Homo sapiens: one gene and its partners. The protein of the gene in region 2 purifies or fractionates together with the protein of the main gene of each other region. This does not show direct contact. Each region holds a gene or a part of one and is shown on either strand. Other genes may lie near its edges. The genes, in order: XRCC4, CWC27 and ASAP1.

Region 1 (3,658 bases), about 18 Mb from region 2:
GACAACAAACTGCTCCACAACAAGAACACGACTTATCCAGTTATATTCTTATAAGCGAGCACCACACACACACACACACAAATACATATAGAAATGCAATACACATACCCAATGAAAGTATTCTACTTGATATATTCAAGGAGAGATTAATAAAACAGCAAATGTAAAACACTACATATCTTCAAATTTAGATACGTAAGACAAAACATACAAAATTCTCTATTGTTTTTAATTCATCCCATACTGCTCAAATGAGCTAACAAGGGATTGTATTTATTTTAAGCTCCCAAGAGATATATAAAGAAAGCAAAATAGCTGAGGTTGTATATACTTAATATATGCATACACATACATGATGAATACATTCCTATTTTATTGATTCAAATACAAATTATTTTATGTATTCTTTTCAATGTTGTTTCATACTGCTTATTTACATTGTTGTTGTTTTACAGGTATCCTAGTATTTTTATACTGTACATAAACACACACACACATATATACCAGTAGTAATATATATGTGTGTGTACATATATAGACACACACATATATATTTCAGTGAAATTAGAAACACAAATGTCCAAATTAGATAGCTTTTATATACATGCCCTTAAACTTTCAACAATCTACCTATCTAGAGATGCAAAGAATTAGAACGTATCATAGGATAAAAAGGAAAATATGGCAATATATTCTCTGGGACCAATTTCAGCAAATTCTTACAGCACAGTCTTTGCCAAAGATGTGAACTCCACGAAAGCAGACAGCATGTGTGTTTTATTGGCCACTGTATCCTCAGTGCCCAGCATAGTGTTTAGCATTCGACAGATGTTTGGTAGGTTCTTATTAGACAAACGAATAAAGTGAATAAATTAATATGGACATCTTTTTGGTTTATTTATTTTCCCAGTGGTTTATTCGTTTTCCCAGCTTTTCTGCAGAGTTATTACAAGGCCTCAACAGTGCTTTAGTTTTTCTTTTCAATATCCTGTTCTGCAGCTTCCTTGGTCCTTTTTGCCCAGAGGCCAAAGAGCCAGGCATTGATATGGCAGGTTTTTTGTTTTTTTTTTTTTTGAGACAGACTTTCGCTGTTGTTGCCCAGGCTGGAGGGCAGTGGCACGATCTCCACTCACTACAACCTCTGCCTTCTGGTTTCAAGCGATTCGCCTGCCTCAGCCTCCCGAGTAGCTGAGATTACAGGCACCTGCCACCATGCCTGGCTAATTTTTGTACTTTTAGTAGAGACAGGGTTTCACCATGTTGGTCAGACTGGTCTCGAACTCCTGAGCTCGTGATCCATCTGCCTCAGCCTCCCAAAGTTCTGGGATTACAGGCGTGAGCCACCGCACCTGGCCTGACGTGGCAGTCTTGAAGTTCTCTTCCTCCTTGGTGATGACTCTGGCTTTCTCCTTCGTATAGGTATTTCATATGAACATTACCGGTCCTGTCAGTGTGATGGCCAATTTGAGTTCTTCAGTGTAGCTGTCTCTCTTCTCGGAGGCTGAGGTTTCTAGAGAAGGAGGATAAGCTTCCAGCAGTACTCCTACAGCTGTTATACATTGGCCTGCAGGGACTCAGTAGACTTGTCTCACCTCCTTGGATCAATAGAGAAATCAATGGTCCAGGCCATCTTCTTGTGGATGCTGGCCACCCTTAATTCTTCCAAGCTGAAGCCCCTACCAGCTTGTACTTGGTGTGAAACCTCATGTGGGGCATTTTACTAGGGGCCAGTGGGTCCAGATACAAGGCACCGGGCAATGCAGTGGGCTTGCCCAGTCCCATGTCTGTGGCTCTTCCTTGCAGGCTGGGTGAACCATATTGCTATAGGCCACTGCCAGTACTTACAAAAGTGGGGCTTCAGGATTATGCCATTCCTGCTGGGCACCATGGCTGACTATAGCCCTCCAGCAAAGAAGAAGAGCCAAGGAGAATGGCTAATATTGACATCTTATAAGGAAACAGAAAAACAGTGATTCCGAATATTGTATTTTTTCCCTCATTTAATAGCTATTCACCATTGTAAAAGTAATGTTTTTCATCTTCAGCTTTTAAAAAAACTGTGGCAAATAATATCAATCTAACAGTATTCCCTTCATTAAGCAAAGTTCTCTGAGAAAGAAGTACACGAAAGATGTTAGAAAAAAACTGAATATTGAAAAGGAGCTAGCAATATTGATAGTTTATTTTAAGCAAAGACATGTCACTACATTTATATTTCAGATTCAGTGTTACGTAAGCATGATATTCTTATCTTCCTATAATATTTTCAAAAAAACACAACAAAAAACTTTAAAACATACATATTACTGAAATACCTGAGTATATAATAACATACTTCAAACATATGCAAAGTAAAAACCAATATGTGAAAACATATAAACAAATATATTACAATTTCTTATATTAAATTTTAGGAATGGTAACCAATTAGTAATTTATCTGGTTTAAGTCCATATTTAATTTCCATATAAGTCACTTCAATAATTCTTGATTGAATGATGATGTGTACTTAACAACTAACAAGCTAATTCCCAAACCTTTATTAAAATTAACATTTGGTATGACACATTCAAAGTGAAAATAAATATGAAAATGAAATATCATATAATATTCCTAAAGAATATTGTTAATCTTAAGTAACCAGTATCAGATCTATGTTGTCAAAGGAAACATTTCTGTGACAGGAAAACACAGTCAATAGAATGAATGGTATCATGTGAGTTAACCTTGCTTGGTTTCAGCAAAGCTTTAGGATTTTTTTGCAACCAAACTTCTGATCATCAAACTGGACAACACTTCCTAGAAAAGTGGGGGAGCGGGAGCTGACTGGAGAAAAAGTATTAGTGTGAACAGTTGCATGACATGAATTTACTCTTAACTTTTAATTTTTCAAGACTCAGAGAATGCTATCCTTTTATCCAATAATCAGTAACTAAGAGGTATGTCGTATCATTCCCACCTAATTTTTAATGCCAATCCTCTCCTAGAGCATTATGATGTTACTATGCATTCCATTACGTGCTTCCTGTCAAGCTTATGCCTCAAGAAATTGGACAGGAACTGTTAGGTGAGAACATTTAGTGGAGAAGAGACATGGGATTCACTGCTAAGTCTGGTGACACTAACAAAAAGCCCATGTACAACTAGATCAGACCACACTAGTCCAAGGATCAAATCCAGGCAAATCTCAAATTGGGACGAAATCACAAATAACATCAAACAAGAAAGGTCTAATGATACTTCATCCTTTCTACAATAACTAGGAAAACAGAACAATAATGCTAAATTTAATTAGCAACCTAGCACTGAGGTATCTAAAACCTTGGACAAAAAAATAGTAATTTTTTTTAAAAAATTAAAAGGATAAAAAAATACAAAAAAATACTGAATATTCAAAATAAAATGTCTCTGGGTGGGAAAACAATCTAAGAATAACATGTCAAAACAATAACAAACTAGGAGGAAAAACACAACAATTTCATGCAGAAATAACACCAAAAATGAAACAACAGATTAAATGATAGCTCAAAATAAAATAATAGATATATAAATGTGAACATATGGTATTTAGACACAGTGCAGTAATCCTTAAATTAATAATCAGTTCTGGCCAAAATTATATCTGGCCCAGGTCAGGGTTGTATGTCAAAAGAAAGTC
Region 2 (3,658 bases):
AGTGTCTTGGAGACACCCTCATAATTATTTATATTTGCAAAGTATAACTGGATATACAATGCATATTTTAAAAATTATAATCTGTATTCTAACAACTGTATTTAGTACACAGTACATAAGAAGTAGAAAGGAAGACCAGCTGATTTTTGCTTAGTCCCTTCTCCCATTGCAGGGCAGTTGGGCTGCATTTACAAGAGCTCCCTAGTGCAGACAAATTCCCTCTGGTTACAAATAGATACTATAAAAACCAAAAGGTCTTAAAGTATCTCTCCTATATTCCTAGGTAACCATTTCATCAGTTACACTAACACTGTATGTAGCAGTCAGGAGTTTGAGTCTTGCCTTTTGCTAGCTATACAGTCTTAAACTCCATTTTCTCATAAATCTAATAACATAAATTAAGGCACAGTGTCAATCTGAAGATTAAATAATATGAAAGCAAACTACACATTTTCAAGTTCAACACAAATGTGAGGTCAAACTAATATCTTCACTCAAATGCTACAAATTCATATTCAAATTTGAATATAAAATATACCCCAGTATATATCATATAATGAATATTCATCTAGACCCATAATAAGCAGCCAACCAATACTTTTTGAGCACTGTGCACATGATCAGATTTGCATTTTCAAAATGTCACTCTTACCCAGTGTGAATATATTAGAAAGAGACATGACTGGAGAGAGAGGGGGAGTGAGAGAGAGAGAGAGAAAGAAAGCAAGAGACAGCGCAAGTGCATGCGACAGAGAGCCAGTGAGAGAATGCAAGCAAGCAACTACTATCCTGAGGTCATTACATAACTATGGCTTATCTTGAGATACACAGATTCAAGAACTACTTATGAAGCAAGATCCATAAAACCCAGATATATGTTACCTGTGACGGAAAAAGGACATGAAAGAGGTCTTTATTACTTGTGTTTTCAAATTTTAGAATTTCACCATTTTCTTTCTTTTTCCTATTTCCCATTAAGTATTTCAGTGATGCTGGCTTTTTATTTTAAGATTTTCTTTATGATTTTCCTAGTTATATTCCTGTTGAATGCATGAAATTATTATACTATATATAAATGAGTAAAAATTTTCTATACTCTCTACACTATAACTTTGTATTCTAACATAGCTGGAATTTCCAATGTCCACAAATCTTCCATATCTACTATTTCTACTTCTTTGTAATTTATTAGTAATCACTATTGAACTATGCATTTATAGTTGTATTTATAGTTTATAATACTGTATATTTTGCTGCTTGCAATGTTTATTTGATTTTCTTAAATTTTTATGCATCATCACAAGTGTTTTGAAAAAGCTTTATTATTTCATTATGCACGTTCATAATATCCTCCTGAATGTTCTCCACTATTGAAAAAAGATACCTAAATGTATCTTAAATATGAAACAAAGTTCCTATTTGATTGCTGTCATTCTAGTATTTGTCACATGGTTTCTATTTCTGGCTACAATAATCTATGGGCATTATCATATATTTTGACTAATTATATTTCTTGCCCAAGTTCATAGAGGAATTTATACTTGCACTTTAAAGTAGTTATACGTTTCTTCTTCTAGAATCCTGTTTTGTGTTTAACTATGTAAATGTTATCATTAATAACTTTTTATCTAACACTCATCTTGCGACCAGTCTGCACTATCTGGTATTTTTTTAAACAAATATTTTAGTTTTGTAAAGAAATTTCTTTTAACTTATAGCATATTTATGCTTATATTTGTCACTCTAAAGAATTAGTAAACTATTATTAAAGAATAAAAGATAAGCAATGAAGTGTGGACCATGATGAGACAAGAATGATGTGAAATAAAGGTGAAGAGATTAGTAGTCACACAATGTATTAAACATTTTGATTTTCTTATCCACTTCTCCCTCTGCTCCCCACTTGTCTATAAAACAAACATAAAATTATACTCCTTCCTCACACTGGAGGAACTAATGAAATTATCAAAGCTAATAAGCTTCCCTTTCATTCCTTTATATCTTTTTTGCTCTATTTTTTAATTGATAAGTTTTTAAAAGTTCCACTCATTTTAAATGTCCACCTAACTATGCTGCAAAGACCAAAAATCTAAGATTAAGTCTGTATAATGTAGATCCTTTGGTTTTTTAAAGGCTATAAACCATCCTTTGGCTATGAACATCATTTTAGTTGAGGGCCATATCTGAGACTGCGCTCTTACTTGTTCATGTTTTATTCATTTGCTTTTAAATTCTGGAAACCATGCTTTAAAAAAATAAATATGAGTGTTTCAAGATCTAGAAACATTATGACTCGTCTAAATCATAGAAGCAAAGAACTAAAATGGGGTTTTCTGGATTATATTTTTGAAACCTTGACTTAACTTATTTAGGAGTATCCTTGTTTAAATCAGTCTTCTTAGGCTTCATGTTAGCCTTTCCAATAATAATTCTATCTCTATTCAATTAAGAGGATTGGTGAATTTGATTAAGATAATTGTTGTGGTTATTTTTAAAATTATTTTTCTATTCTTTCTTCTTTCTCCTTGCATTATTATAAATAGGGGAATAATTGTTGTAATAATTGAGTTTTATCATCACCCAACTTAAGAACCTCATTTCTTCTTCACTGTCACATTGTATCCAGATGTTTTCTGCTTCTTCCATTCACCTGGTCATGGATTGCAATTTACCATTCATTCTTTCTAATGTTTTTGTAATTTTACTCTCCTTCTGTAAAACTTGAGCTTTTGAATCTTCAAAACTTCTTACCAGAAACAAGTCTGACTTTTTCATGTCTCCTGTGTTTCTCAACTTGGTTAACAGATATTTGAGGCCTCTCTGACTGAACTACCTACCTGACTCTATTTCCTTCCTGCCTGCCACAGCAATTATTAATAATGGTCTTTGCAGATGTCCTTTCATTCTCTCTCTCTCTCTCTCTCTCTCTCTCTCTCTCTCTCTCTCTCTCTCTCTCTCGCTCCACTCCTCCCCACCTCTCTCTTTTGGAGAGGGGGTGGTATCTGGGTATTTTTCATTTCTTAAATCTTCACCTGATAATTACGTCTATTTAGAGAGATCTCATCATACCATACTACTGGATTCTCTTTCACACCTTGCTTCTGACCCAAAATGTTGTTTTCTGATACCTTGAATAAAACTGTCTCTAAAAATCAAATATAACTTAGAAGAACAATGATTTGCCACCGCTGGAGATATTCCAAACCATATGTAATGTATTCTAGAAGCCAACAAAAAGCTCTAAAAATGGAAGGTTTACTTCCCTAAGAGAATACTCTGCAGGGAAAAACACTTCAGTGGATGTATAATTCTGCAGCATTTTAAAAAAAGAAAAATAGTTACTTTATGACTCAAATCTAAAAAAACTAGAGACATTGATAATAATATCACTGGATGCTAGCTGGAAGGCTGTGTGGAGAAACTAGAATTTTGAACAGACATTTAAAAATGGGTAGACTTAAACAGTAAAAAAAGGGAAGAAAAAGCATACCAAAAGAAGGGGAACTAGTATGAGGACATGTATGAAAGTGGAAACGGAAAGGAAATGCTTAGGAAATAATGTCCAACTAAAACCATGTGGTTAGTGCAATGAGCTAGAAAGTTGGATAGCTAGGAAGCCAAGCTGCCTGAGGATTCAAATACCATATAAACAAGGAAG
Region 3 (3,658 bases), on a different chromosome or scaffold from region 2:
GACAGTCTGGAGGCAGCATTCCTTACCCTTTGGGGGACCTCAGTCTTTTTAAGGCCTTTCTTTGGCTGATTAGGTGAGGCACACCCACATCATGAAGGGTAGTTCCCTTGACTCGAAATCTACTCATTTAAATGGTAATTGCATCTAAAAAATTCCTTTACAGCAACATCTAGACTAGTATTTGACCAAACACCAGGACACTGTAGCCTGTTGACACATAAAATTAACCATGAAGCTAGGCATGGTGGCTCATGCCTATAATCCCAGCGCTTTGGGAGGCCAAGGCAGAACTATCGCTTGAGACCAGGAATTCGAGAGCAACCTAAGCAAAATGGTGAGACCCTGTCTCTACAAAGTAAATGGATCAATCAATAAAACGTGGTGGTGCTATTTGACAAGCTGAGGCAGGAGGATTGCTTGAGCCCAGGAGTTTGAGGCTGCAGTGAGCTATGATTGTACTACTGCACTCTTGACCTGAATGACAGAGCAAGACCCTATATCTTAAAAAAAAAAAAAAAAAAAATTAACCTTCAAAACAAGTAATTAGTAAGTAAATAACAGTTGTTATTTATTGAACATAATCATGCACTGTATAATAACATTTCAGTCCACAACACACTGCATACTCAATGGGGATCAATATAAGATTAAAACGGAGCTGAAAAATAGCCATCACCTAGTGATGCCATAGATGTCATAATACGGTAGTGCAACACATTCCTCAAATGGTTGTGGGATGCTGGTATAAACCAACCTACTGCACTGAGTTGTATAAAAATGTACAGTAATGTCCTAGGCCTTCACTCACACCCAGAGCAGCTTCCAGTCCTTCCAGCTCCATTTATGGAAAGTGTCCTACATAGATGTACCATTTTTTAATCTTATATAACATGTTTTTATTTTACCTCTTCTATGTTTAGATACACAAGTAATTACCATTGTGTTACAGTTGTTTACAATGTTTAGTATAGTAGCATGCTGTACAGGTTTGTAGCCTGGGAGCAATAGGCTATACCATATAGCCTAGGTGTGTAGTAGGCTCTCCCATCTAGGTTTGTGTAAGTATACTCTATGATGTTCGCACAAGAACGAAATCACCTAACACATTTCTCAGAATGTATGCCTGTCATTAAGGAATGATGTTCATTAAATATGGATTAGACAGATTTAAGCACTTACGTTATCTCAGATCATCTTTATTGAAAGTCCATAACTGAGTGCTGTGGCTCACACCTGTAATCCCAGCACTTTGGGAGGGTGAGACGGGTGGATGCCTTGAGCCCAGAAGCTTGAGACCAGCCTGGGCAACATGGCGAAACCCTCTCTCTACAAAAAATACAAAAATTAGCTGGCCGTGGTGGTGTGCGCCTGTGGTCCCAGCTGCCCGGGAGGCAGAGGTGGGAGAATCACCTGAGCCCAGGAACTCAAGGCTGTGATGAGCCAAGATTGTCCCATTGCACTCCAGCCTGGGTGTGGGTGTCTGAGTGAGACCCTGTCTCAGAGGAAAAAAAAAAAAAAGTACATAAGGGACATTGTTATCCCCATTTTACAGAAGAGAAAACTTACAAAGAGAATTTAGCAACTTGTCTAAAGTCTCCCAGCTAGTAAAGACAGTTTGGAGGATTAAACCCAGTTCTCACTGAGTTTTCCTTATAAGCAGTTAACTACCTCTGAAAGTTCATTCATGCATTAATTGATTGCCTATGTATTGGACATTTCCTGTATCACAGGCAGGATGTAAGGAATGGCCAAAGAGGTCCTCAAGCCTTAACAACTTTAAGAGGAAATAAATTATAATACAATGTGATAATCATTATAAGAGTATGGAAAAATTCCTGAGAGCTATTCAGAGGACCAAGCAGCTGCCTCAGTCTGCCTTCTCAAGGACATTGGAGATGGGTTTCTAAGGATAGGTGGAAGCTTGCCAGGGAAAGAAGTGGGGTGGAATGCATCATTCCAGAACACCACGTGCCAAGGGAAGGAGTCATGGTAGAGTCTGGATGTCGGAGGAATGGAGAGAAGCACTGTGTGTGAGATGCATTCACCTGGCTGGGTGGGGAGAGGCAGGCAGCTGCCTTGTAGAGTCAGGCAAACCAGATCAGGATGGCTTTGTGGGCAAGGTTTGGCCTTTGGGTTTTTGTGCAAGCAGTCAGAAGCCCACAGAGGTTTATTGTCTAAAGAGCAAGGTTTCCCACCAGCTCTGGCTGCAGTGTGGAGAATGGACTGGAGGAAGGAAACTGGAGAAGGGGCCATTCTGGAGGCTAGAGCTGCAGTGGGAGCTGGTGAGCACCTGTACTAGGAGGGGCTTCAAGGGATATTTCCAAGGGGAATGCAGGAACCAGGGACTCCAGGTGACACTGAGGTTTCTAACCTGGGCAGTTGAGTGGATCCTAATGCCATCACCACAAGCGCAAATACCAGAGATACCTCATGGGCCATTGGTTTGGAACACAAGTCACTGGGGTTGTATTTACAGATCTGTAAGTAATTATTGTGTAGCGGGCAGTGGGTGTGAATCCGTTTACTTTGCAGGGGGATATAAAATGAGAAAAGAGGCAAAGAAAGAACTTCAACGTTAAAGGGTTGAGCAGGGAACAAAACTTAATGTAGCAAATTAGAAATAGGTGGAAATACTATTCAAATGTTGCTGAAAAAGTCCTGCATTCTGAAGGTGTTTGCTTATTAAAAGTTAAATCTACCTGTGACCTTACTGTGCTTCTGACACTGCTGCTGATCCTAACCAGTGTTTCACTAGTGTGATTATTCATAGTGGTGAACGATATGAAAGTGTGGTATCTAGATCCTTCCCTTGTACTGTGTCAGCATCATGAGGCTCATTGTGGCTGACCTCATAAAGCTCAGAGAGCCACAGGAACCCAGATTCCCACCTGAGCCCGCCCTGCGGAGGCCCTCTGTACACATGAAGGGTGGTCCTTGATTATTATCTCACCTTCTTATTTCATCTGCCAGCCAAGCCCTATCAAGAAAGAGCGCTCACCCAGACCTCAGAGCTTCTGCCACTCCTCCAGCATCTCCCCCCAGGACAAGCTGGCACTGCCAGGATTCAGCACTCCAAGGGACAAACAGCGGCTCTCCTATGGAGCCTTCACCAACCAGATCTTCGTTTCCACAAGCACAGACTCGCCCACATCACCAACCACGGAGGCTCCCCCTCTGCCTCCTAGGAACGCCGGGAAAGGTATGGGCTTTGAGAAGGGCTTGTGACTCCATCCTCGAAGGGCTTGTGACTCCATCCTCAGAGCTGATAGTCTAGCCAGCTTTGAGGTAAGAATTGCAAGGTACATTTGAGTGGCGCGGATCGTGTTGTCAGGAGCAGCTTGAAATAGGGACCATGCCATTTGCCAGGTACCAAGAGCAGGACAGGCAGTGCTGTGGGCTCTCTTTGTGCATTATTTGTGTTAACCTTACAACAATCCTGTGAAGTATGTGCTTTTGTGCCCATTTTACAGAAGAGGAAACTAAGGCTCAATGAGATACACTGACCAGCCCAAGGTCACACCACTGGTAAGAGGTAAAGTTGAGATTCAATCTGAGGTCCACGTGGCTCCAGAACCTGTACTTTTTATAATGTGGAGTGGAGTTTCAGTTCTCTGGAAAGTTACTTTTCTCTACATTAAAATGCCACTCTTTTGAAGAC

Evidence for each region.
Region 1: the proteins of CWC27 (region 2) and XRCC4 fractionate together in Homo sapiens (co-fractionation; one large-scale study listed by BioGRID). This does not show direct contact.
Region 3: the proteins of CWC27 (region 2) and ASAP1 fractionate together in Homo sapiens (co-fractionation; one large-scale study listed by BioGRID). This does not show direct contact.

Annotation. Positions count from the first base shown.
Region 1 is NC_000005.10:83,199,459-83,203,116, reverse strand, and holds part of XRCC4 (DNA repair protein XRCC4), read right to left. Parts: intron 1-3,658.
Region 2 is NC_000005.10:64,775,369-64,779,026, reverse strand, and holds part of CWC27 (spliceosome-associated protein CWC27 homolog), read right to left. Parts: intron 1-3,658. UniProt on the Homo sapiens protein: As part of the spliceosome, plays a role in pre-mRNA splicing. Probable inactive PPIase with no peptidyl-prolyl cis-trans isomerase activity. As a component of the minor spliceosome, involved in the splicing of U12-type introns in pre-mRNAs.
Region 3 is NC_000008.11:130,111,635-130,115,292, reverse strand, and holds part of ASAP1 (arf-GAP with SH3 domain, ANK repeat and PH domain-containing protein 1), read left to right. Parts: intron 1-2,970; coding exon 2,971-3,199; intron 3,200-3,658. UniProt on the Homo sapiens protein: Possesses phosphatidylinositol 4,5-bisphosphate-dependent GTPase-activating protein activity for ARF1 (ADP ribosylation factor 1) and ARF5 and a lesser activity towards ARF6.